Homo sapiens: one gene and its partners. The protein of the gene in region 7 purifies or fractionates together with the protein of the main gene of each other region. This does not show direct contact. Each region holds a gene or a part of one and is shown on either strand. Other genes may lie near its edges.

Region 1 (4,491 bases), about 23 Mb from region 7:
TACATTTGTCATGACCAGAAGAAATGTCATTATCGTAAAATTTAGATTCTGGAGTCTATATATGAAAGCAATACTAACTACTAACTGTTATAACAACAAAATGTGGGATGTATATCTACAGACCACAGCCACCTTGCCAGTTCATTCAAGAATCGAACCCTGGATTTAGCAGTTTCTGCACAAAGGGAATGAAATATTTTTAATTGATAATTCAGTCAAAAATATTAATGAAGATCCATATGATTGAAAGAATAAATTTATTCAATTGGCTCCAATGTAATCCTATTGTCACCAGATCATTGACACCAAATTGTTATTTTTCCCTTTGCTAGTAAAGGTATAAGCAGAAACAATTGCAAAAGAACACATAACATCTAGTAGGGATAATGATGAAAGCCAAAAATGGATTATTTGAAAATAATTTTGGAAGTAAAAAAACCATAGGTGTGAGGAAAAAAGAGAGAAACTACAAATAAACTGCATTGTGATAAAACAATAAAGCACATAGCTAAAAGCCTATTAAGGATTTTTTAAAAATTATATTTTGAGAAACACTTGGTGCTAATAATTTTCTCAAAAGTACAAATATCCAAAAGTCATACAGAAAATAAAACAACCTACTTTCCATCAAAAGTTTCTAATTTTATTCTGAGAAAAGATAACACCAAGAAAACAATTTTAACTACAGAAACAATGGTTAGCGTAAAAAATTAATAATCAAAAAGATAAACCATGTTATAAGTACTTAACAAACTTATAAACTATTTCTTCCATAACATTCTCCATATTTTAAGTTCATACATGTTGATATGATCAGATTTACAATTTTTCAGAAAAGACGGGGGAAAAGGTGTGATTATCGTCAGCTAGATGTGCTCACTGCATGCTCCATTATTTATCTGCAAGGCCTGGGTGACTGGAAGTGCAGTTGACAGGCATTTTAATAAACTGGACAGCCATTTGTTCTTCAGGACAAGGCGTGTTTTCCCCAGGAGCAATCAGAAGAAAACAGGAAGCAGCTCAGCACTCTGCACTGCAACAGGCCACCTTAATAGCTAACCAGCATCACTCAACTGCTACGCAGCCGGGCCTGGTGCACAAAAACACAAAAGAGATTAGACCTGTGTTTGCTAAAACCCCAGTCCTTTCACATGAAAAATCTTTATACAAATTTGGGTCACACTACCTTTTAGACCTGGAGGTAAATAAAATTATCCATATTAATTTACACCACCTTTTGTAGGTTTTTAAGGAATGAAGGCAATGTTGAAGCATGTCTTGACAGCGTTAGGCTGTGTGTAATGGCTGCACACGTTTCCTTAAAAGTCAGGAGGCCACAAATTAGGTTACCAATCTGTTCATTTCAAACCAAAACAGTCATCACTATAGAAATAAAAATAAATTTTTGCCTCAAATATCCAAACCCAATAACGTAATCTTAGGTCGTTCACCTCCTAAGTTACAATAAAATGTGAATAACAACAAAACGGCACATAGAATGAATTTTGCCACCTGATGCAAAGCTTCAAACTGGCAAAAAGGTAGAAAAGTGTGACACAACCTTTTCAATAGGCAGCCTCTTCTTCCAGGGACGTTGCTTCCATAGACTGAGTATGTGATCCTTTTCCCCCAAGTCCTCCATCACGTTGCTTCCTGATGCATCATTTTCTTAAGAGGACATCTGTCCTTCCTCTTCAGGAGACTTGGGGGGCCTCTTGGATCGCGACCTTGACTTGGATTTCCTCTTGGATACCCGGGGAGGACTCCTGGTCATAGATGAAGACCTGGACCGCGAGCGAGACCTGGAGACCGAGGAGGACTTGGATCGTCGCGCAGAGCTCGATTTGGAGGTTGATGCAGAGCGAGAGCTAGTGGAGGACCCAGACTTCGAGTGAGACCGGCTGCTGTGATATCGGCTGTAGCGAGAGTTACTGTAACCAGATGAGCTGTAGTGAGATCCGCCGTAGCGAGATTCCCTGTAGCGAGATCTGCTGTAGGGAGAGCGGCTGTAGCGCGACCGGCTGTAAGGAGATCGGCTGTAGGGAGACCGGCTATAGCGAGAACCCCTATAGCGAGATCGGCTGCGGGACCTGGAGCAGCTGGGACCCCGGGATCGGCTGCGGTGTCGCCGCCTGGGGCTGCGGCTCCGCCGCCCGTAGCTGCGGCTCCGCCGTCCGTAGCCGCCGCCTCTGGACCTGCCGCGTGGCTCTCCCTGGCGGCTGCGGGGCAGGTCCCGGCGGCCATAGCGCGCCACCTGCACCCGCAGCTCGCGTCCGTCCAGCTCCGCCCCGTCCATGGCGGCCTCGGCGTCTTGGGCGTCGCGCCGGTCGTGAAAGCGGACGAAAGCGAAGCCCCGGGGCGCCTTGGTGTGGGGCTCCCGCGGGATGTACACGTCGCCCACGCGCCCGTACTTCTCGAACACGCGCCTCAAGCTGTCGGGAGAGGTGCGGTAGGTCAGGTTGTCCACCTTGAGGGTGATCATGCCGTCCACGTCGGGAGGGGGGCGGCCGCAGCTCATGGCTCCGAGAGCAGCCCGGGCCCGGAAACTGGCGCTGCTCTGGGCGCTGACGGTGCGACCTGCGTTTCTTTCTCGCGGTTGCGCCCCGCGTGGGGACGCCGGGAAAGGCCGGGCGGAGAGGCGGGCGGCGGAGCTCCGCAGGGAGCGCCCTGGAGCAGCAACTTCCGAGTTCCCAATTTCAGGCCAAATACTCCAGGACCCAGAGGAAGGTTTCCTTTTGGTAGCTGAACTCCAAATGAAGCCAGGCCCCGAAGATCCTGGCCTTGTACCTGGGCAACATCCTAACCTAATCAGCGCCCAGCTAATGTAATCACTGGGCTGGATTTACATTAGACGTCCCACCCTCCCATGCTCCTCCCTATTATTCTACGTTTTAAACCAATCTTAAGAACAAAGCTAACTGATTAAAGGTCAATTTATGGGAACAGGCAATCCAGACAAATATTAAACAAAAGAAACCTAGGGCAACAATATTAATATCCAGTGTATTGATAGGATCAAAGGAGCACATTTCATAGTTATTGAAAAGAAAATTCACTAGGAAAACATTACAGTGATGAACTTAACGCACCTAAACACATAACAGTGACACATAGCCAAGACTGAGAGTTATAAGGTAAAACTGAAAAATCTGCACTCATGATGGAAGTTTGTTTTTTCCCCGTAACACCGTTTTCTCAGAAATCAATAGTGCAGAGAACAAAACTAGTAATGCTATAATAATTTGCACAACAAACAACAATTTTGATCATATAACCTGCAACAACCAAAAATATATAGAAAACAGAAGAATTTCCCAATACAAGACTACAAAATAAATGTCAATTAAAATTTAATAGGTCAATAAATTCAGCACATCTGGACCTCAGTGAAATAATATTGAAGGTTAAAAATAAAAAACCTGAATCCAATCATATTTACTTGAAAATTAATAACCACATTTCTAAAACTTTTTTTATGTTGAAGTCAAGCAATTAGTAAAACAAAACCAAAACAAAAAATAAAACATTAAAATAAAAATAGAATTACAAATAAAAGGGACAATATGTTTTTTTAAAAAGATGATTAATAAAACTGAAATCTAACACTTTTAAAGAAAAAAACAATCTAGCAATACTGATGAAGAAATACAGTTTCTAAATCTGGAAAGGAAATATACAGAAAGGGCCTAGAGCATCTTGGAGTGCTGGAAAATAAGGATGTGATAAATAGAAAACAAACAAAAGCATTGATGGGGTAATTTTAGAGGGGTACAAAAACCAATAAAACAGCTCCCAATGGCCAAATCTTGAACAATTTAAGGAACAAACTAAAATACTACTATATCATATTCCAAAATATAAAATAAATATTAATCTGTGCTGTTGTAAATAAATGATTAAATAAATTAACACATTGGAGAAAAGAGAGAAAACTCCTCTGCAGGAGAATTCTAAATTAATTAAATTAATTAAAACGTTGCTGATTTTGAAAATGTTATGTAACCTTATATACATAGAATTGTGCTTTTTATATTTTAATGTATTTTGTGTTTTATTTCCCTCATCTATGTGTTCCATGTAGCTGTACTTGATCCTGTTACCTTGCCGTAAGGCATTCAATGGTATAAATGTTTGTGCTGTTGATGGGCACTTGGGTTGTTTCCACTTTTGGCCTCTTACAGTGTTGCTCAGAACATGCTTGGACATGTATACTGGAGCTCATGTGTCCTCTTAGGTATGAATGGATCCCTTGTCACAGAATACAGGCAGCCCACTGTAACCTCTGGCTTCAGCATCAGTGAATTCAGCCAACTGTGGGTAGAAATTATTCAGAAAAAAAAAACAATAAAAATAAATAGAACATAATACAGTAAACAATTATTTACATAGCATTTTCATCATAATGTAAGTAATCTAGAGATGACTTAAAGTATGTTGGAAAATACGTATAGGTTACATGCTCATACCAAGCCATTTTATATATGGACTTGA
Region 2 (3,714 bases), on a different chromosome or scaffold from region 7:
CTGGAGTGCAGAGGCACGATCTCGGCTCACTGCAACCTCAGGTGATCCCCCCGCCTCCCAAAGTGCTGGGATTACAGGCGTGAGCCACCACGCCTGGCCATTTTTCCGTTTTTAAAACAGAATTTGGCTGGGCACGGTGGCTCACGAGGTCAGGAGATTGAGACCATCCTGGCCAAGATGGTGAAAACCCCATCTCTACTAAAATACAAAATTAGCCAGGCGCATGCCTGTAGTCCCAGCTACTCGGGAGGCTGAGGCAGGGGAATTGCTTGAACCCGGGAGGCAGAGGTTGTAGTGAGCCAAGATCGCGCCACTGCACTCCAGCCTGGCAACAGAGCAACACTCCATCTCAAAAAACAAACAAACAAACAAAAAGACAGGATTTTAGAGGAAACCGCTGTTCCACCCTGAAGGCAGGCTGGCAGGGCTGGTAGCCTGGGTCCCTGCAGTCATCCTAAGCTGCTGCACTCACCTGATCCACCAGCAGCTGAGCCAGGCCAGGCTCGCTTGCGCGCAGCTGATTCAGCTTCTTGATGAGCGCGTGCCTGCAACACAGAACCCACCAGAAAAAGCAGCTCAGTACCACGTGCTGTGACCCTCCCTTCATGTTTTGGGATTATCAGGATATTTAAAGAAGCACAGTAAGACTGTCTGTAGTTTTTTAAATAAGGTATGTTAATGATCATTTATAGATAATATCATTATATACCCAGAAAACCCAAGAGAATCAGGAGTGTCAGTATTAGAAAATGCTGTAAGGTAGCCAAACTCCAAGATTAATATACACTAAAGGGACAAAAGGAGCTTAGTACGTGAAGACATGCCTTGGTTCCTAGATAAATAATAAAAGAGAAGGGAGTAAGACCCACATGTTGAAACATATTATAGGGCTCTAGTAAATAAAACAGTTTAGGTCTGGAAAGGGGGAAGGCAAACAACTCCATGTAACGAGGGTGGACACTGAGTGTCTGATGAGGACAGTATTTCACAGAAGAGGGAGGAGACAGATCACTCCATCCAGCAGCACTGGGATGACTGGGAGCCATGCAGAAAACCATTTAGACCAGAGTAAATTCCAGAGGGATCAAAGATGACAAGCACAATTCTAGGGAAGAAATGTTTCATCATCTCAGAAGGGGAAAGCCTTTCCAAGCAAAACCACAAACCAAAAAGTAAAGAATGATTGACATATTTGACGTCAGAACAATATTTTTTTCTGCATAGGAAAAAGCATCATGTAGTATTTAACCTTAACATGAATATTATAATTTTTCACTTAGAAGTCTGATAAAACCGAGGGCTCTGGGGAACTGTAAATTTGTACAACCTCTCCAGAGGACAACTGGAGTCGGGAAAACCACATGTGGATGATATGCTGAGACTCAGCCATTCCATTTCCTAACTGCATCCCTTTAAACACTTTTTTTTTTAGATAGATAGATAGATAGATAGATAGATAGACTCTCACTCCTTCACCCAAGCTAGAGTGAAATGGCATGATCTTGGCTCACCGCAGCCTCCTGGTTTCAAGAGGTTCTCTTGCCTCAGCCTCCCAAGTAACTGGGATTACAGGCACCCACCACCACCCCCAGCTAGTTTTTGTATTTTTAGTAGAGATGAGGTCTCGAACTCCTGACCTCAAGTGATCCACCCGCCTAGGCCTCCCAAAATGTTGGGATTACAGGCGTGAGGCACCGCACCCAACCTAACAGAGGAAACACTTCAAATGCACATCCTCACATTTCTAGTCTACGTAGCTGGAAAAAAAGGACATTCTTAATATGCTAATGTGGAGGTCACCTAGTTACCCTAAGGGAGAAAAGCAAGGCAAGGACCCACTGCACAGCAAGTTCCCCCTTGGAAGCCCACGGGCGCAGCTGCCCACAAATGCACATAATCTCTGCAGAAATACAAAAGCCCTAATGCTGGCTGCACTGGGGACACAGGTAGGAGGAAATTTTCCCCTGTAAGCAGTTTTGAATTCTGAACTATGTGGACAGAACACCAAATTTTAAAACAAATGAAAGTGAAGCTGGCTGGGCACAGTGGCTCTCGCCTGTAATCCCACCACTTTGGGAGGCCAAGGCTGCAGTGAGCTCTGATGGCGCCACTGGTACACTCCAGCCTAGGTGACAGAGCAAGACCCTGTCTCCAAAAGTGAAGTGGCAACAGACAGAAACGAGCACTTCTGCAGCTATCTCACAAAACTAGTTTGCCACCAAAACTAGTTAAAGTGACCTGGTGTCCGCCTCACTGAGCTGCTCCAGCAGAGGCACAGGCATTCTGCATACTGGCGCTGCTGTGCACTGACAGCCATAAGCCAAGTCAGCCTTTCCCCAGGAGTGCCATGGCTAGGAAGATGCATCTCCCTCGCCTCCAGTATAATTTTAAAAGTTATGGTTGTAAAATGACAAAAGAAAAAAACTAGACATGTACTAAAGAACAAAACAAAAACTGGCTGGGGGTGGTAGCCCACACTTGTAATCCCAGCACTTCGGGAGGCTAAGGCAGGTGGATTGTTTGAGGCCAGGAGGTAGAAGTTGCAGTGAGCTGAGATTGCCCCACTGCACTCCAACCTGGGGGACAGAGTGAGACCCTGTCTCAAAAATTAAAATACTACTTAGGCTACATTGTGGGGGGGGTGGTAAGTCTATGGATTTTGATTTCCTTTTTGCTGTTTTCTATTTTTGGTAACATGTTTATGTAACTTCATTTTTTAAAAAATTGCTACATTCAAAATTTCCCCCAAAAAAGAAACTTCATATACAAGTTAGTTCATATACAAGTTAGAAAATGAAATTTTAAAATACCCCATAAGACACATCAAAGAATAATTCTTTAAAAATGGTACCAGAACCCTACAGAGAATGTAAGGTACCAAAGGATGTTAAAGACCTAAATAGATCACATTCATGGGTGCAAAGAAGTGATACTGTAAAAAGAAAGAAACTCAAAAGATACCTAAAGGCAGGTGAAAAGACATTTACAACAGATAAAGGGCATATAAAGAACAACAGGAAGAAACGAGGGAAATCTTACGGCTCAGCCACTGTCAGGGCTGGGGGGTTCTCGGTGCACCCTGGAAGCAGCTCCCACCACCGGGGCCACAGAGAAACCCACACAAGCCCCAGACACGTGGACAAGAATACTCAGAGCAGCCTGGCTCTCCACAACTTCTGACCAAGAACCACCGGAGGCCCAGCAGAGCAGAACGGAGCAGTCTGCTGTGCCGAGGTGGGTTTCTGCAGCGGACATTATTCGGCTATGAAAATGAACTTGTGGCAGCCCCTCTGCATGGGCAACCCTCATGCCAAGTGAGCAACGTGAGACTTCAGCAAACACCAAGATCCACGTACAAAGCTCAAAACAGGCAAAACTGAGCATGTCCAGGACACGCACAGGTGGCAAAGCCATAAAGCAAAACGAGGACATGGTCACAGGCTGGGATGTGGCTAACCTCCCAGGTGACACCTGGGGATGGTAAGGGGCTGGCCAGGTTCCATTTCACATGGGTGCAGCCTAAACTGCATACAGCTCCTTATAGTTACCCACATGTCCACAGGCCTCACGCACTTTTCTTCTGTGTCACATTCCACAACAAAAGAACACCACACACAGGATTCTGGGGAATCCCACAGGCTGGAAGAGCCAGGAGCGTGGCCTCACCTGGGGTTGATCTCCAGCGTGGGCTGCAGGAGCTGTGCGCGCTCCTCC
Region 3 (3,714 bases), on a different chromosome or scaffold from region 7:
AGCCTCCCGTGTAGCTGGGGTTACAGGCACGCGCCACCATGCCCGGGGAATTTTTCTGTTTTTTTTTAGTAGAGACAAGGTTTTACCATGTTAGTCAGGCTGGTCTCGAACTCCTGACCTCAGGTGATCCACCCCCCTCAGCCTCCCAGGGTGCTGGGATTACAGGCGTGAGCCACCGTGCCTGGCTAAAATCATATTTATTGAAAGGTTTAAAAACCTTTAAAAAAGTGAGCTATGATTTCATACACTTTGAACGTGTAGTAGAGATTGTTTTACTTTTTAAAAATTACAACAATTGGCCGGGTGCAGTGGCTCACGCCTGTAATCCCAGCACTTCGGGAGGCCAAGGGAGGTGGATTGCCTGAGATCAGGAGTTCGAGACCAGTCTGGACAACATGGTGAAACCCCGTCTCTACTAAAAATACGAAAAAATTAGCTGGACGTGGTGGCATGCGCCTGTAATCCCAGCTACTTGGGAGGTTGAGGCAGGGGAATTGCTTGAACCAGGGAGGTGGAGGTTGCAGTGAGCCGAGATCGCGCCACTGCACTCCAGCCTGGGTGACAGAGCAAGACTACGTCTCAAAAAAAAAAAAAATTACACGACAATTAAATTTCCATCTATCGTAAGTAGGAAGGTGTTTCCCATGTAGTATATATTTAGAACCATTTTTATTTTAAAAATGAAAATATGTAGGACATAGAATCACATAGGACATAGAATCATAGAATCAGTGCATATCCAATCAAAGTTTTCTGGATTTTTTCCCCTCTACTTTCCCCAAAGTACTTTTTAGTCATATAAAATATTCAGACCTTCTCACTTGGATTGTTAGGAATACTGTTTGTAGCCTACTGTTAGAAAAAAAGAACAAATGTAGATCTGATATTAAGTGCAAATCATTTTTATAATGAGCCTTTATATCGTATATCTTAGGCAAATACAGACCATTTCCTTAGGTCTCTAAAGTTGAAAGCTGAACTGTGATTGTTTACAAAGAGAATGTATAGCAGATGCAAAGGGAGAAGTGAGGAAATATCAACTGTAGTTTTTCCATAGCAATGAATAATTGCTCCAGAATGGGAGGAGAACCCTTTCCTCTAGTACTGAGATCATTATGTGAAAGGATGGGACACTTTACCCATAAAGTCATGATCTGAGTATGTTTTTCTGTCCTTCTGTGTGCAATTATTCAACAAGTGCCTCTAGCTCAGTAAGTGGTGGTGAAGAACAGTTGTTCTAATTGTTTAATAATGAAGGCCGGGCATGGTGATTCACGCCTGTAATCTCAGCACTTTGGGAGACTGAGGCGGGTGGATCACAAGTCAGGAGTTCGAGACCAGCCTGACCAATATGGTGAAACCTCATCTCTACTGAAAATACAAAAATTAGCTGGGCATGGTGGCGGGCACCTGTAGTCCCAGCTACTTGGGAGGCTGAGGCAGAAGAATCGTTTGAACCTGGGAGGCGGAGGTTGCAGTGAGCTGAGATTGTGCCACTGCACTCCAGCCTGGGCAACAGAGCAAGACTCCATCTCAAAAATAAAGAGAGAGAGAAAGAGAGAAAATCAAAGCTTGACTAAAGCTTTAGTCCCGTATCATCCTTTATAAAGAACACTGAAGTTTAGGGGCAGAAAAGCTGTATATTCAGTCTTAGAATATCTTGCCATTTCCAGGGAATGACCTTTCTAATGATTTATAATCAAACCTTTATTGCTTCAGTCCTGAGAGAGTCTTAAGTCTCAACACTTTAGAGTTCCACGTTACAGGTTTTATAGTTTTGACTCTTGTTCAAGTCGTTATGACAGTTGATATTTCTTGTTGCTGGTAGTTTTGTTTTAAATTTATTTTTCGGCTTCTCATTCTAAGCTGAGACGAACATGGTTTGGTATGACTGGATGAGGCCCTCACATGCACAGCTTCACTCTGACTATATGCAGCCCCTGACTGAGGCCAAAGCCAAGAGCAAGAACAAGGTTCGGGGTGTTCAGCAGCTGATACAGCGCCTCCGGCTGATCAAGTCTCCTGCAGAAATTGAACGAATGCAGATTGCTGGGAAGCTGACATCACAGGTATGATTCCTATTGAAAAGTTTTTTCCAGCCGGGCGCGGTGGCTCACGCCTGTAATCCAAGCACTTTGGGAGGCCGAGGCAGGTGGATCATGAGGTCAGGAGATCGAGACCATCCTGGCTAACATGGTGAAACCCCGTCTCTACTAAAAAAACATAAAAAATTAGCCGGGCATGGTGGCGGGCTCCTGTAGTCCCAGCTACTCGGTAGGCTGAGGCAGGAGAATGGTGTGAACCCGGGAGGCAGAGCTTGCAGTGAGCCGAGATCGGGCCACTGCACTCCAGCCTGGGCGACAGAGCGAGACTCCATCTCAAAAAAAAAAAAAAAAACAAGAAAAAAAGAAAAAGTTTTTTCCAGATTGGAAAAATCGTAAGCTCTTGAGGTCGTATACCCAATGCAGCAGTCTCCTCACCGCAGAATGGCATCTAGCTTCTGCTCCAGTGTGTAGTGAACATACCTAGAGACTTGCTTAATACCTTGCAAGACAAAGTAAATCTGCCTTCTGTTAAGATGGTTCTTTTACCCATCAATCTTAATTATTTCTCCTTAGAACGACAGAAATTAATACTGTTTCTTTTCCTTATAGTTACACTAATAGTGTCAGTTAAACAGTTTGGTTCTAAGAAAGACTCAGGACCCAAAGTGACAATGCTTACAGATCTGCAGTTTATTATAGGAAAAGGGTAAAAAATAACCATAATATGAAAGTAAGGATATATATCACAGCCAATGGCTGTCTCAAAGCAAGGAGTCTAGAGAAGCCAGGTGCAGGCTTCTCTGGTCCTCCCTAGGTGAGGGCCAGGCAGGATGTATCTTTCTCTTACAGATTAGGAATCACCAGTGTTGTCATACTCTGCTCAGGCTGCCATTACAAAATATCACAGTCTGCATGGCTTAAACAAGAGAAATGTATTGTCTCATAATTTTGCAGTCTGGAAGTCCGAGATCAAGGTGCCATCATGGTCCATTTCTGGTGAGGGCTCTCCCGGCTTACAGAAGGCGGCTTTCTTGCTGTGTCCTTACATGACAGTGAAAGAGGGCCTTTTTACAAGGCCATGGTCCTATCAAATTAGAGCCCCACCCTTAATTACCTAATTTAACCTTAACTACCTCCTAAAGACATAGAGATTAGAGCTTTAACACATTAATTCTGCGGGAAACACAATTCAGTCCATGGCACATGCAACAGACTACCTCAGAATCAGAGACTCCAAAATGGAATCTCAGCTAGGGATTTTTGTTTTTTTGGTCACATAATCATATTCCTGCTACGTAACAGTAAAGCCCCCCGAGAGTTTTCACAGAGACCAAGTGTAAACCATAAATCTCACTGGCAAACTGATAGAAACTATCCCAAAACTCCCTATTTCATTTATTCTCTCCAAGGTGTTGGCCATTGACTTAATTTAAAAAAATCTTTTTACTGTGGTGAAATGTGCATAACATAAAATATATCATTTTAACCGTTTTTAAGTATGCAAATCAATGACATTAAGTACATTCACATTGTTGTGCCCACTTTTTCCCGACTTTCTCCATCATTCCAAATAGAAACTGTACAGATAAATAATAACTTCCCATTCTCCCCTCCTCCAGCCCCCAGTAACCTCTACTTTCTCTGTGAATCTACCTATTCTAGCTACTTC
Region 4 (3,714 bases), on a different chromosome or scaffold from region 7:
CACATATCTACAGCCAACTGATTTTTGACAAAGGCTCCAAGAACACTCATTGGGAAAGGGCAGACTCTTCAATAAATAGTGCTGGGAAAATTGGATAACCATAGGCAGAAAACTGAAACTAGACTCCCCCACCTCTCTGCCTATACAACAATACACTCAAAATGGATCAGACTTACATGTAAGACACAAGACTATAAATCTATTAGAAGAAAACATAGAGTAAATGCTTCAGGACACTGGTTTGGGAAAAGGCTTTATGAATAAGACCTCAAAAACACAGGCAACAAAAGCAAAAGTAAACAAATGGGACTATATCAAACTAAACAGCTTATGCACAGCAAAGGAAACAATCAACAATGTGAAAAGTCTACCTAGAGAATGGGAGAAAATATTTGCAAAGTATTCATACAACAGGGAATTAATATCCAGAATATACAAAGAACTCAAAACAGCCAAAAAAAAACCCATTTCAAAAATTGGCAAATTAGCTGAATAGACATTTCAAAAGAAGACATGCAAACGGCCAACAAATATATGAAAACATATTCAACATCATTAATCATCAGGGATATGCAAATCAAAACCACGAAGAGATATCATTTCACCCCAGTTAGGATGGCTATTATAAAAAAGATAAAAATTAACAAATGCAGGTGATGATGCATAGAAAAGGGAACTCTTATACACTTTAAGTAGTGAACTAGTACAGCCACTATGGAGAACAGTATGGAGGTTCCTCAAAAAACAAGCATGCATAATTTTTATGATTATAATAGAAATATGATTTGACTTTCCAAAGAAAAGTATTTTTCAAACAATAAAGAAATTGGAGGGAAGTTGTTTTCCATAATTTATGAGACAGGAAAAGGCAATGTGGCAAGTTTGATTATGCTTAATTCAAGCAACAGATTCTGATAAGAATAAAAGTAACTGGGTTATTAGGGTAGCCATTTTATGAGATAGAGTACTGTTTATTAAAATAAGCTCTGGTACTCTGATCTATATTTTCCTTTAAATGCTCATTATATGTAAAGCAATTTTGCAATACTTATCTAAAATACTGTCCTTTAGAAAGAAAATACTAATGAAATGAAAGGGTTAAATAAACAGACATTTTAATTTAATATTAAATGTGGATCATCATTAGATTTCAAAATTTTTCTTCTGAAGACTCTGTGTGTCCTCCTAACTATTAATAGTTTGTGAGGTGTTACTATTTAGAAGTTGGTTGGTAAAACACCAATTCTTTAAAACCTGAAAATTTAGTAAACTAATGTAATTTGTTGCATGACAATTACACATTAGTAAATCAGGCACAATTAAGAGACAACTGTTAAATAAAATTAGAGTGCAATTAAAGGCTAAAAATGAATTTTATTTGAACAGCAAGTAAAAATGGTACTGCTGGCTGAACGCGGTGGCTCACTCCTGTAATCCCAGCACTTTGGGAGGCCGAGGCAGGTGGATCACTTGAAGTCAGGAGTTCGAGGCCAACTGACCAACATGGTTAAACCCCGTCTCTATCAAAAATACAAAAATTAGCTGGGCATGGTGGTGAACGCCTGTAATCCCAGCTATTTGGGAGGCTGAGGCAGGAGAATGGCTTGAACCCGGGAGATGGAGGTTGCAGTGAGCCGAGATCACACCATTGCACTCCAGCATGGGCAACAAGAGCAAAACTTTGTCTCAAAAAAAGAAAAAATGGTACTGCTGTAAGGAAGCCAGTTCATTTGTTTAAGAAGTTAATTAGTACAGTACTAAATGTATTCTTGTGCAGAGCAATACTCTGAGCAAGGACAGAGGATTATAAATAAGAAAATATCTTGGTCCTTTTCCTAGGTAAATTTAAAATATACATAGGAAAAGAACATGTGTGTGTACACACAATAAATGACCTATGTGGTTCTGTTATAATGTTTATCATAAAGCTCACAAAAATGTAATACACTCCAAGCAAATAAGCTCTGAAGGAAAGAAAGAGTTAAAGAACTATGTTCCACTGGGTAACTATTCCTGGAGAAGATAAGTTTAGTAAAAACTGTTTGGACATGCACTATGTTATCAGAATTTTACATGTATTATGTCATTTCAAGCTCACCATTGCTCTGTGAGATGGGTACTATTATTATCCCCATTCTACAGATGAGGAAATTGAGGCATAGAGAGTTAAGAAATGTGCCCAAGGTCACTGGAGGGTAAAGGACACAGCTTGTACTTATACACTGGTTTGATTCAAGACAGTGAAGTATCACTAAAAATTTGGGATTAGGGCAAGGATATAAGTGTTTTCAGAAAGACCTTTCAAAGAACTATGTATAGCATATCTGAGAGGCTAAGGGGCAGTTTGGGGGCTGCTACAAGCAGATTGGTCAGATAGTCTAATCATTTATGTAATTCTCTTGTCATGTCATATTTAATCTTTCTTACAAAGAAGGCTAAACACATTCTCATGATGTAGATAATGAAACAGTTTTAATTAAGGTATCCAGTTACCTCTAAACAAACAAAAAAATGCTTATTCTTTTAGATAGACAAATGCTGCTTATAAGAGAAGACAGACAAAAGTGGTCAATATTATAATTTTAAAATTTTGTTTACACCTGTTTTAAGACAGTTGCTAAATCAAAGTAATGAATCTAGAGAATGTAGGCCTCTATTTCTTCTTTCTCTGACAAGCAGATTTTTTAACCAAAAGCAACAATTAGTTCATTGACATCTTGTTTGTTTACTCACTTCTTAGAGAATTGTGAAGTGTTAGCTATCATCACCTTGAAAGTATCAATACTAGATTTGCTGAAGCATTAGTCTATACTACTTACTAAACATATACTTTCATAGAAACATCTGCCAGAATGGAGAACAACTACTTTTTTTCTGAGAGGAGGTACCTAATGAAATTAATTAAATATATTTGGATAGTCTGGAAAAAAATCAGCAGAAAATGTCACTTTGGGCTTCCTCCATTTTGTCCAAATAAATTGCAAAATGGGGAAATAGCCATTGCAAAGATAGATAGATAGATAGATAGATAGACAGAATATATCTAAGATATCATATAAGATATATACATATATATCATATGCACATAAGATATATCTATATATATTGTAAACATTGTCCATTTTTCAAAGTCTTTGGATTTTTTCTTCCTTTATAGTAAAATTAAATAAAATACTTTCAAACTTGCAATAAAAAGGCTTGCTTTATTTGAATTGTAGGATGGAAATTCTTCAGATGAGTACTACAGGCAAAAAATTCCTGATTACCCTTGTAAAAGTATTCTTCCGTGATGTGGTTTTACATTTTTGAAAAATGTACGCTGTTTGTACATTCAAAACTAGCATTAGCAACAAAAGCAAAAATAGACAAAAGGCATCACATCAAACTAAAAAGTTTTTGCACAATAAAGGAAGTAAATGAGTAAAGAGGCAACGTATGGAATGGCAGAATATATTTGCAAACCAAACATATGATAAGGAGTTAAATATTCAAAATATATAAGGAACTCAAACAACTCAGTAATTTTAAAAAACATAATTTTTTAAAATGAGTAAAAGATCTGAAGAGATGTTTTTCAAAAGGCATACAAATCGCCAATAGGTATATGAAAAAATACTTGACATCACTAATCATCAGGTAAATGCAAATTAAAAACATAATGAGATATCATCTCATGCCTGTTAGGACAGCTATTATCAAAAAGACGAAAGGTAA
Region 5 (4,171 bases), on a different chromosome or scaffold from region 7:
AATTTAAAGCAAAAAGTATTAACGTTAAGCATTAATTTAAAAACTTCAAAACACCTTCAATAGTTCAATTTTATTGTAATTTAAAATCTACATTATAAAATTAAGGAAAATTACTTGAAGAAAATTTTCTAAAACAGTAACGAGTTACTTGTGATGCAAAATTATGGAACTTTTTATTTGTACATTTTTTCCACCAGGGTCAGGTTTATTCCTGATTAAAGATAAAATTACAAAGGCCACACTTACAGAGATCATTGTTGTAATTAAGCTTCAGCCTAATTATGTGTGAACCAATCCAATTATTCCCCAGAATATAAATTGTGTCAAAAACTGAGTGTGAATAGTCACTGGCATATACTAAGTATCATCAAAGATGATACAGTATCATATTTGCTAAGAGGAACATCTTACAAAAACTAGTCCTTATCTAAAAATAGCAACAACAACAGCAACAACAACAAAAGAATATTAACTCTAAAATAGAATCCAAAAAGGTCTTTTGGGAAGACCCATCTTTGTTTTTTTTTAAAAACATAAAAAAAAATCCTGTTTTTTCACTGCATATTTCTAAAATTCTATTTCCACCCACATGGTAAATTTTGTAGTCCTGAACAATGGCTTTAGATAGAAAAGCGTGCATGTAAGTTTAAGCACTACACTATTTTGCAGTGCTTTAACGTTTCCTTTCTTCCCCACAGATTGCCATGTAAAAGATGTTTCAATTCCTTAAAAGCTAGCCAAAGGCAGGGCTGGATGCATACAAAATAAAATTACAAAGTTGGAAACTTATAAATTTCAGTGAGTATTTGATCTGAAAGTCTTAAGTCTTCTTAATATTAGTAAAAAAACTGGGTCTTTAGTTTTTTAACGGAATTTAAAAACAATTCCTGGTAGAATCTTGTTTCAAAACACATTTGAAACTTAAAAACGAGACTTTCCTCTATTACATTAACATTTTGCCTATGTTAGAAAACAGAACCTGCCGCAGAAAGAGCAGGAACCCAATTTTCAACTGTTTAAAGTTTACTGCATAAATAAAGCTAAGGATTAAATGTTATTCACCATACTGTATCCATGCTAAAAAGGTCTTACCTTTTAAAAGCTAAAAAAACTAATTCATAGAATTACAATCAGACCTACTCTCGTAAGAGGATTCCAAATTTATTTGTGTACTTTATCAACCCAAAGTTGAACTGTATTCAAGAGATGTTTTCTATAAAAAGCAACTAATCTCTCAAAATCCTTCAATAACCTAATTACTCAACTGGGGGAAAAGGTGGGCAAGACAAAAGAGAATGTCCTTTTGTTACCATCTCTACACATACGTTCAAATGATAGAAAACACTTTGTGCGGTCTGTCAAGTTTTTAAGAGTGAATATAGACAAAAATGGATTGTGTATTAGATGCTCCGGATAAAATTTTTAAAGACCACTAAGGCTATTATTAATATTCTTTAAAATAGAAATTAACTTTCGGAGGCCTGGAAGGTATTTTTTATACTACATAATTTGCAGGGAAGTGGAAAAAGCCTACCTAATTGGTGAAGGACCAAAAGCAATGGCCAAAAAAACCCACAAAAATCTAATTAGTCGTTCATTTAACCAGGGAAATGCATTTATGGCGATTGAGCATGATTAATAGTGCATACCTCTACCTGCGACCCTGGGCTGCTCCGAGCCTCGCTGCAAGACTGAGTCAATCCTGCTAACGAAACAAGAACTGAGACAAGAGTGCAGTGAGGAGGCGCCAGGTGAGCTCCCCAGCACAGCCAAGCCAGCACCGACCCTGCCGCAGAAGCCCAGGGCCCAGATAATTCTAAATTAGCCCAATGCACAGGTGGCTGAGACCTCTTACTCCTGACTTCCTGCTGGGAAAATTTCCAGGCCTTCTGTACACCTCTTGAAATGGCACCTCTCCACCCTCATCCCCCCACCCCACCCGACACACACGCACTGACCATTTCCCTGCCTGGATCGGATAGTGAGTACCAACAACACGAGGCCAATACTGAAGTCATTACACGCCCTGGCCAGGGGTGAGCGGGAGAAGCACCAACAAGTTGGCGCTCAGCAGATCCACGTCAAAAGGAATAATTTTAAAGCTGTAAACTGGAAAGGCTTCTGTTACTCTTTCCTCCTCTCCCCCATCCCTCTTGCCCAACTCCCCCCAGGGGTGGGCAGGAGGTTGGGGGAGGAGAGAGATCAATAGTGGCGGGCTCTCCCGGCCCTAAAAATCTAAAATGGAAACGAGAGGGCGGCCCCAGTCCGACCCCTCCCAGACACACTACAGGCCGCAGCCACCCCTCCGCCGAACCACCTTCCCCCACCCACAAATCTTCAGATTTCGGGGGCCGCCTTCGCCCGTTTCCTCCATACCCCCTCTTCCGAACTTACCCCCAAAGCCAAGGCCTACACACTTCGTACCTTAAAGTAGATCTCGTCCACCACCTCGTGGTAGGTCTTGAGCTCGTAGAGCTGTACTTTGAAGTAAGGCGACGACAGGATGTTGGTCAGGATCATGGGGTTGAGGTTCATGGTCTTCTCGTTGCCCCAGAGCGGGAGCACATTGCCCTGCTTGCCGGAGACCGCCGGCTTGGTAGCGCCGCCGCCGCCGCACTGCTGCTGTTGCTGAGCCGCAGCTGCAGCCGCCTGGTGCTGCGGCTGCGAGTTGCCTGTCAGCGCGGGGCTGTTGTTAGCCATGTTGCGGCGGAAGGAAGGAGGGAGGGAAGGAGGGGGGGGAGGGGGCCAAGCTCGATCTCGCTCTTCGGGACAACGGTCTGGGACCCTACTCCATCGAACGTCGTCGGGAGAAGGGGCCGCCTCGCTGTGCCCCAGCTGGGCAAGAGAGGGCACCCGACGCCGACAAAATGACCCCGGGCCAAGAGCAGACAGCGAAACCCAGACCGCGAGAACTCCACGCAGAAGGCGAGCCGGCAGCCAGGGAGCTCGATCTCTTCCGCCAACTGCCCCTGGGAACAAGATGGCGGGCCCGGCGGATATGACGCCACGCACCCCAGCGTTCCAAGCTGAGCTGGCGGCCAATCAGAGACGCTCAGTTGGGCTGGAGCGTCCTCTTCCTAGGTCCCCGCGTTCTCTGCACGCTGAAGTCGCTGCAGTGACCTCCGTACCTGACTCTTAGGGGATTTCTCCTGAGAATTTGGGGGCCGGGGGAGAGGGTTGTAGGCCTAATCCGTTGTTGTTGTATTTTGACTGGGGGCTTGATTTCTTTTGTCGGGAGCTGAGCCAGGAAGGGTTCGCATGGCTGCGGTGTGCTTGCTAATATCGTCACTCTGACTTCTGCAGAGTATCCGAGAGGGGTCTCCTGGGATCTCAGTTTTAAGGTTCTCTGGAAGGTACAATGGTCAGGGACCCCACTCCTCCAGGAGATTCTGATCAAAGGTCACGTACTTCGCCAGCCTCTAGTGTCCAGCCAGAAGTCTTAAATTTATTCATCCGTAAGATTGAGATAACATCTGGCTGGGCTGTTGTGAGCATTGAAAGAGCTAATGTACTTGTAGTGCCTAGTAGACTGTTCCAGGCATCTGGTAGGCGCCTTTTCTTTTTCTCCCTGCTCCAGATCTTTGGATTCTAGGAATGTATCCGGAGTGATAAACATTGGGCGAGATACTGTATATTGGGAGTGGGTGTGTGAATGTGTGGGGAGTTTGAATGTGGCAATCTTGACTTCAGTGGCGCATACACAGGAGGAGAAAAGGATAAGATGGAAACTTTGGGGAAAATCCACATCTGGATGAAAATAAACCAGAAGAGGAGAGAGAGAGAGCGAAGACCAGCAGAAAAGTATTTAAACCAAGAGACAGTTGTTTGACAGAATACAAGGAAATAGAAAAGATAAGTGAATGGAGTGATTGATTAGTGTTTGGAGCTGTACGGTACGAAAGTGGATATCCTGTCTGGTTCCTTTGTTTTAGGTTGCAAGAGAACTAGAACCCTGAGAGGAGAAGCAGTTTTCACCTTCTTACTAGCAAATCTTGTTTTTCTCTATAGTGGTTTTTATTAACTTCCAAAGGAAAACTGAAGATCCTAACCCCTGTGTCATGAGTTATCACGTTAAAAGTCCATAGAAAAAATTTTTTTTAACCCAGTTCTTTTTGTGTATATATTTTTTGCCTTGATAATACTAGTTTATTGAGTTTGCCGAGTGACACAT
Region 6 (4,514 bases), on a different chromosome or scaffold from region 7:
AGTCAGCTGTGAGGATCAGGAAGAGATCAAAGAAAGTAGAAATGTGGGTGAGGCCAGAGAAGGAGACAATAATCTGGGATGGAACATTGAAGAGGAACACTGCCTCTGGAGAGGACTCCAAAACGTAAGTTCTGGCAAGGGACTCTGGCTTTTAGTTTCCAGAATGATCATTGTTGAACCCCTCCCAAGACGTGATCACAGCAAGTTCTCCATTTGTCCTATCTCTTGATTTTAGGAGCCAAGTCCTTGAGACTTTGCATCTCTCTGGTGCCCAGTGCAGAGACTGTGTGTAATGGGCACTAGAAATGTGTCTTAAGCCGGGAGGCAAGAGGATTCAAATAAAGGGGCATGCTTCGTTCTGGAAATTGTGAGGATGGGGGGAAGTAGAAGGACAAAGGGTCCCACTCACCACCAAAGCTCAGAGTGTTGCCCCAGCCGGAGATGAGGCACTCAGTGCCAGCAGCTGGAGGGGTGGTGGGCAGAGAGATGGTGGACACGCGGGCATTGATGACGGCAGGTGAGGAGAGTTTGATCAGCATGATGTCATTGTCCAGAGTGTCCCTGTTGTATTTAGGGTGGCGGATGATCTTGGCCGCATTGATGAACTGCTCATTCCCCTCCAGGACTTTGATGTTGTGCTCTCCCAGTCTCACCTGGATGCGGCTGATGGGCAGGGCAGGCATGGTGAAGACCTTCTCCCACAGCCTGGGCACCCCTCCCACCTTCCCCAGGGTCCTCAAGCTCACTGCTCATGGATAGCTCTGGAGGCATGGGGTGGGGTGTGTGGCCATATTGCATGGGCAGGAGAGGGATGTGGGTCAGTGCAGGTGTGAGACCCAGGACCTTTCTGCTTCAGAGGCTGGTGGTAGTGGGGTGGGGAAGAGTCAAAGGGATCCCACCAGAGGCTGCTCCTCAACCTGCCTTCCCAGCCTCTTTCCCACAAATCTCCACAGTCACTAGCACTGTGGGCACAAAGAGCTCCTCGTAGTTTTCCCAGCATTCTTCACCCCAGGTCTTTGCTAACTGCGCACAGCGCCTGTTCCTCCCTCCCTTCTTGGCCTAGTGAGCACCACCCTTCTGTGTAATCTAATCCAAGGGTAGCCATAGCATTAGCATCTCCTGGGAACTTGTTAGAAATGTAAATTCTTGGTCCTTACCCCCACCCGCTGATCAGAACCTTGGGGATGGGACCCAGTGATTTGTGCTTTAATAAGCCTGCAGGTGGTTTTGACGCATACTCAGGTTTGAGAGTTCTTCGTGTAGGCAGCGGTTCTCAGCTCTGTCTATACACTCTACAGTTACCAGAGGTAGAGTGTTAAATACTCACTGGTATTCACACTGTCTTCCTGAGAAGTTTGAGTTAATTGCCCTGGGGTAGGACACAGGCATCAGTATTTTCAAAAACTCTGTCTTAGGTCGCTTTAATGTGTAGCTAACCAGCAAAAGGTACTTGCCTGCTTTTGTCACTAGCTCTGACAACTCCAAGATTATCCCTGCCTGCTTTTATGACCACAACCCTTGCTGTTTCATGGATTGGCCTTGCTCTGGAGAGTCAGCTGCTGTCAACAAGTTTTCTTTTCCACCACCTCTCCCATCCGTCTTACCCAACCTCAGTACTTCCCTGGGCTGAAGCCAAGCTCTCCCAGGCAGCCTGGCTGGGAGCTTTGCAGTCAGGGGCCCCACACTTACGTCTTGTAGCAGTGAGCTGCTGATACCACCCACTGTTCGCTGATGAGGGAGCCACCGCAGAAGTGGGAGCCAGAATTCAGGGACACCTGGTAGGGGAGAGAATTCTCCTCACAGGTGTAGCCCCCAACAATCTTGTCATCATCGTCAAAGGGGACAGCAACTGGAGTGGAAATAGGAAGGGAGAAGGCAAGTCAGTAGCATGTTAGGGGTGGTGCTCCCAGCCTGCGGTTGCTTCCTGCCAATTAGAAATCCTTAACAAGCCCAGTGAGGCCAGGCAAGGGAGGGAGCGCTGCCACCCCTGGTGAGCATCACTGGATGTGGCTCCCAAGTCTCTGTGTCTGCAGGGCACGTAGCTAGGTACCCTGCAGGGGCTCAGATCTCTCCTGGGGACACCAGGCTGAGGATGCAAGGAATGTCCTCAAAATGCTTCCAGTGGGGTAGCAGTTGGTATGTTGTTGTCTCACCCACTGAGTGCTTCTCTCTTTTATTCATCACCTGTGTACTTGCCCTGGCTATTTGAGCCCTGGATTGTCAGGATACTTTGGCTAAGCTAGGAAAACCCCCTGTCTGGGTAGACCTGGCCATGACTAGCTTCCCCCATAGCTCAGATCTGTGCAGTGAGGGCAGAGTTGAGGGCAGCCCCAGGCTCACTTTGGCATAACAAAGGTAGACTTTGTTATTGGCCAATAGAAGAGCAATTCTTAACTTTGGCGGCATGCCTGGAAACGTTAAAAATCACCTGGGAAGCTTAAAAGCCCAGTACACAGGCTGCACCCCAGACAAATGAAGTTAGAACTTCTAGAGTTGAATCTCTGGCATGAGTAATTTTTGAACCTCCCCAGGTGCATTCGAGGTTAAGAGCAGCTATAGTGGTGCTATACTGGTGCTCTTGGAGCCAAGCCTGAAGCCTGCCACTTCATTTCATGGGCCAGCCCCACCTGGTCTCCCTTCCCAGCTTCTCCAACCACAGCTCGGATATGGATGAATGACAGTGGTGGGAGTGAAATGAGGGAAAAGGTGAAACAGGTGAGGCTTAAAGAGAGCCCAAGGAGGATGGGAAGGAGATATGTCAGATGGAGGAAATAGAATATCAGAGCGCAGTCAAAAGAGGAGAGGTGGCAAGAATGGCAGGGCATGTGTCTGCCAGGAAAGGGGGTGGGTGGGGCCTGAGGCAGGTCATGAAACTCGCCAGCAGCTCCCACAAAGGCAAGGATCAGGAATGGATTCATGGTGGTAGAGTGTGCCTGACTGGTGGTGGAAGGCCTGTCCTTATACCCTTCCAAGAATCAGGAGAGGAGGTGTCTGTGAGGTGAGGGTCACAGTTCTTCCCAGCACAAACACACCTGCAGCTTTCCCCTTGCCAGGGTCTTGCATCAGCTCGGCTACGTTTGGCCACTCTGTGGGTTTGTGATTCACAGGTGATAAGGAAACTTGCCTTCTGAGAGCAGAGAGGGAGACTGGCTATTTCCTGGAAGGATGCTGGGATGGGGAAGACAGGGGAAACCAATCCCCGGATCACACAGCTGGGCTTTCGTAGGCCGAGGAGATGAGGGTTAGAAGGAGGGAGAATGGCCTGGGTGTCTAGGAGTCCTTTTAACTATTGGGGATGTATTTAATAATGTACTTAAGGAAGGGCAAGCATTGGTAACAAGCTTGGCTTTTCAGTTTCCTGGAGCCCCCACGAGAGGAGGAAAGTCTTATCTAAGGCTCATTTTTGTGAATATGAATATGCTTCTTTGCAGTCACTGTGCACAAAGGTCAAATCCAAGACTTTGGGTATCCAGAATTCCAACACTAAGGGGTAAGGAGAAGGGAGACTTAGCATTCCATAGGATTCTGGGCTTCCAGATGGCTCTCCTTCCTACCAAGGCTTAAAAGGATGGGAAGTGTTTCAAAGAAGGAGGGGACACAGGTTAGGTAGGAGCTTACTCAGTGCATCTGGAGGATGGAAAACCAATGGCGCACTCCTCCCCTTCTTCAATGTGAAGCCACTTGTCTCTCTCATGTGCATCCTGTCATAGGTTCTTTTTATGCAGCCTCACGGTTGTCCTGGCAACCTGCACTTAGGGTGATGCAAACTGACTCACCTGCTCAGGGCTGACAGCCTGAACCAGAATGACATGCCCCTGATCAGATGTCAGAGTTTGGACCATGGTAAATCTGGGTTACCATCTGATCTGAGAATCAGCAGTAGGTAGAGATTTTAGCACATGGTAAATGGGTCACATATTGGGATCAATAAGAAGATGTGGAGGGGTGGGTCTAGAATTTTCTATTTTAGATGCAGTGAGATTATGCTGGGCTTAGTATCAAGTGAATCTTCCCAGAGAATATCCTGATTTGGGCCCTACCAAGGCTACTAAGACACAGTTGTGTAATTGACTGAGGCACAACCTGGCCAGAGTAGTGTGGAGATGGAGATGCTGTCTGTGATCAAGTCTAATGATGTAAGGAAAGGAGGAGCTTCCTTATGAGGGTGCTTTCCCTTCTCAGCAACTCTGAGCTCAGGTTGGTGATGGGCAGGAGTGAGCAGAGTTCAAGTTTAAATTCTTTGAAAAGTAAAAGAAGCAGAGATGTTCTGGAGATGGTGAACAAAATGAGAAAAGCTCAGAAACTTCGTGTTGAGATCGGACATGGCCAGGGGGCTAGAGGGAGGAAGCAAATGGAAACCAGAGGGAATTGGAAAAAATGCGAATGTGGGGCCCGTGGAGTTGAGAGGACACACAGAGTACCTTCAGGTTCAGCTCCTGGCATGGCCAACGAGCCAGCTTCCCCAAAGCCAGGAGATCCACTGCTCAGAGACCCGCTCTCCACCCCACATCCCC
Region 7 (4,182 bases):
AAAAATTAAGCAGAGACGGATGGGGACTTGTAGTGTAATAGTGCGGTCAGATTAAGCCTCACTGAGGTGTCAAAGATTTGAAGGTAAAAAAGCAATTTAAATTGTAACCCCAGGCTGGGTGCAGTGGCTTACTTGTGTAATCCCAGCACTTTGGGAGGCCAAGGCAGGTGGATCACCTGAGATCAAGAGTTTGAGACCAGCCTGGCCAACATGGTGAAACCCCGTCTCTACTAAAAATATAAAAATTAGGCCGGGTGCGGTGGCTCACGCCTGTAATCCCAGCATTTTGGGAGGCCGAGGCGGGTGGATCACGAGGCTAAGAGATCAAGACCATCCTGGCCAACATGGTGAAACCCCGTCTCTACTAAAAATACAAAAAATTAGCCGGGCGTGGTGGCTGGCACCTGTAGTCCCAGCTACTTGGGAGGCTGAGGCAGGAGAATGGTGTGAACCCGGCAGGTGGAGCTTGCAGTGAGCCGAGATCATGCCACTGCACTCCAGCCTGGGCGACAGAGCAAGACTCCATCTCAAAAAATAAACAAACAAAAAACTAGCCAAGTGTGGTGGCGGACACCTGTAATCCCAGCTACTTGGGAAGTGTTTTGTCCCTGACTAGCTGCCTCACCCATTATCTGTTTGTGGAATTTGTGATACAAAAAAACAATGTATAGCCAATCAATTGTGGATGTTATTTTATTATAAGTTATTGAGAAACAACTTAGGAACTAATCTTTTTCCTTAAAAACTAACTTGTGATGGCTGCAAAATTCAGGACAACTTGAAACTATGCTCCTGTGTGCCTATCCTCAAGCTTCCTGAATCTCATTACTTAAGGCTGACAAGCTAAATATTAAAATGTGGGCCGGCACAGTGGCTCACATAGTGCCTGTAATCCCAGCACTTTGGGAGGTGGAGGTGGACAGATCACTTAAGGTCAAGAATGGAGACCAGCCTGGCCAACATGGCAAAACCCCATTTCTACTAAAAATACAAAAATTAGCTAGGCATGGTGGCAGGTGCCTATAGTCCCAGCTACTCTGGAGGCCAAGGCAGGAGAATTGCTTGAACCTGGGAGGTGGAGGTTGCAGTGAGCTGAGATTGTGCCACTGCACTCCAGCCTGGGCAACAGAGCAAGACTCCATCTCAATAAATAAATAAATAAATAAATAAATAAAATGTGCACTTAAGGCCGGGCGCAGTGGCTCACACCTGTAATCTCAGCACTTTGGGAGGCCAAGAGGGGCGGATTATGAGGTGAGGAGTTCGAGACCAGCCTGGCCAACATGGTGAAACCCCCATCTCTACTAAAAATACCAACAAACAAAACAAACAAACAAACAAAAAATTAGCTGGGTGTGGTGGCGTGTGCCTACTCAGGAGGCTGAGGCAGGAGAATCACTTGAACCTGGGAGGTGGAGGTTGCAGTGAGCTGAGATTGTGCCACTGCACTCCACCCTGGGCAACAAGAGCAAAACTCTATCTCAAGAAAAAAAAAAAGAAATGCGTATTACAAGTTTCTCTCCCTTGCCTCCCTCCCTTTCCTCCCTCCCTTTCCTCCCTCCCTTTCCTTCCTCCCCTTCCTTCCTTCCTTTCTTTCTTTTTTTCGTTCTTTCTTTCTTTTGACAAGGTCTCACTCTGTTGCCCAGGCTGGAGTGCAGTGGCACGATCTACAATCTCTGCCTCCTGGGCTCAACTGACCTGCCCACCTCAGCCTCCTGAGTAGCTGGGACTGCAGGCATGTGCCACCACACCTGACTAATTTTTTTTATTTTTTAGTAGAGATGGGGTTTTGCCATCTTGCCCAGGCTGGTCTCGAACTCCTGAGCTCAAGTGATCTGCCCATCTCGACATCCCACAGTGTTGGGATTACAGGCGTGAGCCGTAACACCTGGCCTACAAATTACTTTTCCTCTGCTTTTTCTTTAGTTATATCATCATGTTCAGGATATTAAAGGGGTGGTAGCAAAATAAATGTTATAGGGAGACCTCAGGTCCAATGTGGTCGAGAGACACAGCCCAAAGTTTTGCGAGATGCATGAACCAAGATGCTTCAGGAGGGCGTACGGCTCATTTCTGTAATCCCACACTTTGGGAGGCTGAGGTGGGAGGATCACTTGAGTCCAGGAATTTGAGACCAGCCTGGGCAACATATGGAGACTTTGTCTCAGGAAAAAAAAAAAAGAATGCTTTGCACACAGCCTCATAATGTGAGAGACTCTCCCTTCTTGAGCTGTTTAGGGCTGGCAGAAAAGAGGCCACTATGCACAGTGTGCAGTTTCTTCCCTCAGATCTTTGGAGGAGTCATTCCCAGTCTAAATCCCTAAATCAAGCAACCCCAGGATGGGTCACTCCAACTTCATTTCCCAGGCTCTCCTTTGGGCCTGCTTCCTTATTTCTGTAATGCGGAAACTCAACAACCAAGAAGGTGAACTGTTGGCATTGTACCGACATTTGGCACAGTGTCTGTGAAATAGTCACCCATATTAATGCAAACTGAAGGGCTCCTCCACTTCAGTTCACCAGTGAATGGGGTTTGGCATTTCCATGTCCTCGTTTCCTCTTCCTGAGCCAGTCCCTCACCACCCCAGATCACCCCCTGGCCCACCTGCTCATGCAACTTGTCCTCGGGGCCTGGCTTTTCCTTGTGGTGCTTGGCGTTCATGCAGACATTGAGAAGCTCAGTCCTGGCCCATGCAATCCTTGTCTGAGCCTCCCCTACTACAGCCACCCACACTAGAAGGAGCAGCAGCTGTGTTGTCATCCGCTGAGCCATGTCTGTCCCTGAAGAAAGAGCTGTGGTCAGTGGCACCAAGGAATGCGGAGGTGGGGCCTTAAGTTGTGTGCAGGGCTCCAGGAGGGTGGGGCCTGGACGGAAGCCTGGGGCAGATAGAGCCCTGCCCCCATCTCCCTCAGTTTTCCCAGATCCAATGAAAGGTAGGATTAGACACCACCCCTCCCTGGCTTGAGCCTCATTGCCTTCTCCAGGTGGTCACGAGGTTCAGGTGATATAATTCAAGGATGGATTTGGGCAAAATGCAGAAATAGCCAGGAGTTTGCCATAGGTCCACAATGCCTTATTCAAATGTTTCAGGGTTAAAATTTTTTAGGATTTCATCAAAGGTGATTCAAAGAAAATATAATTTTCATATACCCAATAATCAAGTGTATATTCTGGGGTGAAACAGTTACACTAGTGGGATAAATTAAAACTATACATAAACTCACATTAATTTTCAGGTCAGATTTTGACACCAAATTACTTCATTGTAAAAGTTTACAAAAATGGGCTGGGCGCGGTGGCTCATGCCTGTAATCCCAGCACTTTGGAAGGCTGAGGTGGGTGGATCACCTGAGGTCAGAAGTTTGAGACCAGCCTGGCCAACATAGTGAAACCCTGTCTCTACTAAAAATACAAAATGAGCTGGGTGCGGTGTCGTGTGCCTGTAGTCCCAGCTACGTGGGAGGCTGAGGCAGGAGAATCACTTGAATCCAGGAGGTGGAGGTTACAGTGAGCCAAGATTGTGCCATTGCACTCTAGCCTGGGTGACAGAGCGAGACTCCATCTCAAAAAAAAAAAAAAAGTTTATAAAAATGTTTTAGTTGGGGGGGCTGCAGTGTGGTTTTTGTTAGTTTGTTTTGCTTTTTAAACCTTGGTCCCAGCCCCTTTCTAGCCTCATCACTCAAGCTAGTTTAGTAGGCCCTTCCCGGAAACCATGGGATCTTGGTGGGGTGGGGTCACAGGACATGGGTGCTGGCAGGGGACAGCCAGCTGGACAGCCCTGGGGCCTTGGGGAGCTCCTGTGCCCCCTACCACAGAGCTGGCTTCTCCTTGGTCATCACAGAACTTCAATCCTTTGACCTCAGACACTGAATTTTGGGAGGCGACTGTTTCCTTCACTCCACTGGACACCAGGTGTCTGGGCCCTCCTAAAATGCTCAGAATTTATTTCCTATGACTTCTCTCCATCTGTCTCCTCTAACTCATCTTCCACATACCAGTCGCTAAAGTGGACATGCCTTTCCCGCTCACAAGCTTGCCTTGCCCCCGTGCTGCCCCTCCTCTCCTCTTGACAGGGCCTCCTTGACAGGGGTCTAGGCAGGGCCTGAGCTGGGCTGTCTCCAGGCCGACTGCACAGCAGGGCTCATATAAGCCTGGAATTGAATTCCCACCCAGCAGCTCTC

What was found.
Region 1: the proteins of FOLR1 (region 7) and SRSF8 purify together in Homo sapiens (affinity purification with mass spectrometry, with the first as the bait; one study listed by BioGRID). This does not show direct contact.
Region 2: the proteins of FOLR1 (region 7) and TRAP1 purify together in Homo sapiens (affinity purification with mass spectrometry, with the first as the bait; one study listed by BioGRID). This does not show direct contact.
Region 3: the proteins of FOLR1 (region 7) and XPNPEP3 purify together in Homo sapiens (affinity purification with mass spectrometry, with the first as the bait; one study listed by BioGRID). This does not show direct contact.
Region 4: the proteins of FOLR1 (region 7) and FAM133A purify together in Homo sapiens (affinity purification with mass spectrometry, with the first as the bait; one study listed by BioGRID). This does not show direct contact.
Region 5: the proteins of FOLR1 (region 7) and PRPF38B purify together in Homo sapiens (affinity purification with mass spectrometry, with the first as the bait; one study listed by BioGRID). This does not show direct contact.
Region 6: the proteins of FOLR1 (region 7) and PRSS3 purify together in Homo sapiens (affinity purification with mass spectrometry, with the first as the bait; one study listed by BioGRID). This does not show direct contact.

What each region holds. Positions count from the first base shown.
Region 1 is NC_000011.10:95,065,254-95,069,744, reverse strand, and holds the start of SRSF8 (serine/arginine-rich splicing factor 8), read right to left. Parts: upstream 2,827-4,491; 5' UTR 2,519-2,826; coding exon 1,670-2,518; 3' UTR 1-1,669. UniProt on the Homo sapiens protein: Involved in pre-mRNA alternative splicing.
Region 2 is NC_000016.10:3,658,321-3,662,034, forward strand, and holds part of TRAP1 (heat shock protein 75 kDa, mitochondrial isoform 1 precursor), read right to left. Parts: coding exon 3,667-3,714; intron 546-3,666; coding exon 473-545; intron 1-472.
Region 3 is NC_000022.11:40,884,447-40,888,160, forward strand, and holds part of XPNPEP3 (xaa-Pro aminopeptidase 3), read left to right. Parts: intron 1-1,866; coding exon 1,867-2,069; intron 2,070-3,714. UniProt on the Homo sapiens protein: Catalyzes the removal of a penultimate prolyl residue from the N-termini of peptides, such as Leu-Pro-Ala. Also shows low activity towards peptides with Ala or Ser at the P1 position.
Region 4 is NC_000023.11:93,680,607-93,684,320, reverse strand, and holds part of FAM133A (protein FAM133A), read right to left. Parts: intron 1-3,714.
Region 5 is NC_000001.11:108,691,121-108,695,291, reverse strand, and holds the start of PRPF38B (pre-mRNA-splicing factor 38B), read right to left. Parts: upstream 2,983-4,171; 5' UTR 2,701-2,982; coding exon 2,425-2,700; intron 1,703-2,424; exon of another isoform or gene 1,650-1,702; intron 1-1,649. UniProt on the Homo sapiens protein: May be required for pre-mRNA splicing.
Region 6 is NC_000009.12:33,793,978-33,798,491, reverse strand, and holds the start of PRSS3 (trypsin-3 isoform 2 preproprotein), read right to left. Parts: upstream 2,932-4,514; 5' UTR 2,919-2,931; coding exon 2,879-2,918; intron 1,850-2,878; coding exon 1,690-1,849; intron 664-1,689; coding exon 410-663; intron 125-409; exon of another isoform or gene 7-124; coding exon 1-6. UniProt on the Homo sapiens protein: Digestive protease that cleaves proteins preferentially after an Arg residue and has proteolytic activity toward Kunitz-type trypsin inhibitors.
Region 7 is NC_000011.10:72,190,765-72,194,946, reverse strand, and holds the start of FOLR1 (folate receptor alpha precursor), read right to left. Parts: upstream 2,808-4,182; 5' UTR 2,774-2,807; coding exon 2,606-2,773; intron 1-2,605. UniProt on the Homo sapiens protein: Binds to folate and reduced folic acid derivatives and mediates delivery of 5-methyltetrahydrofolate and folate analogs into the interior of cells. Has high affinity for folate and folic acid analogs at neutral pH.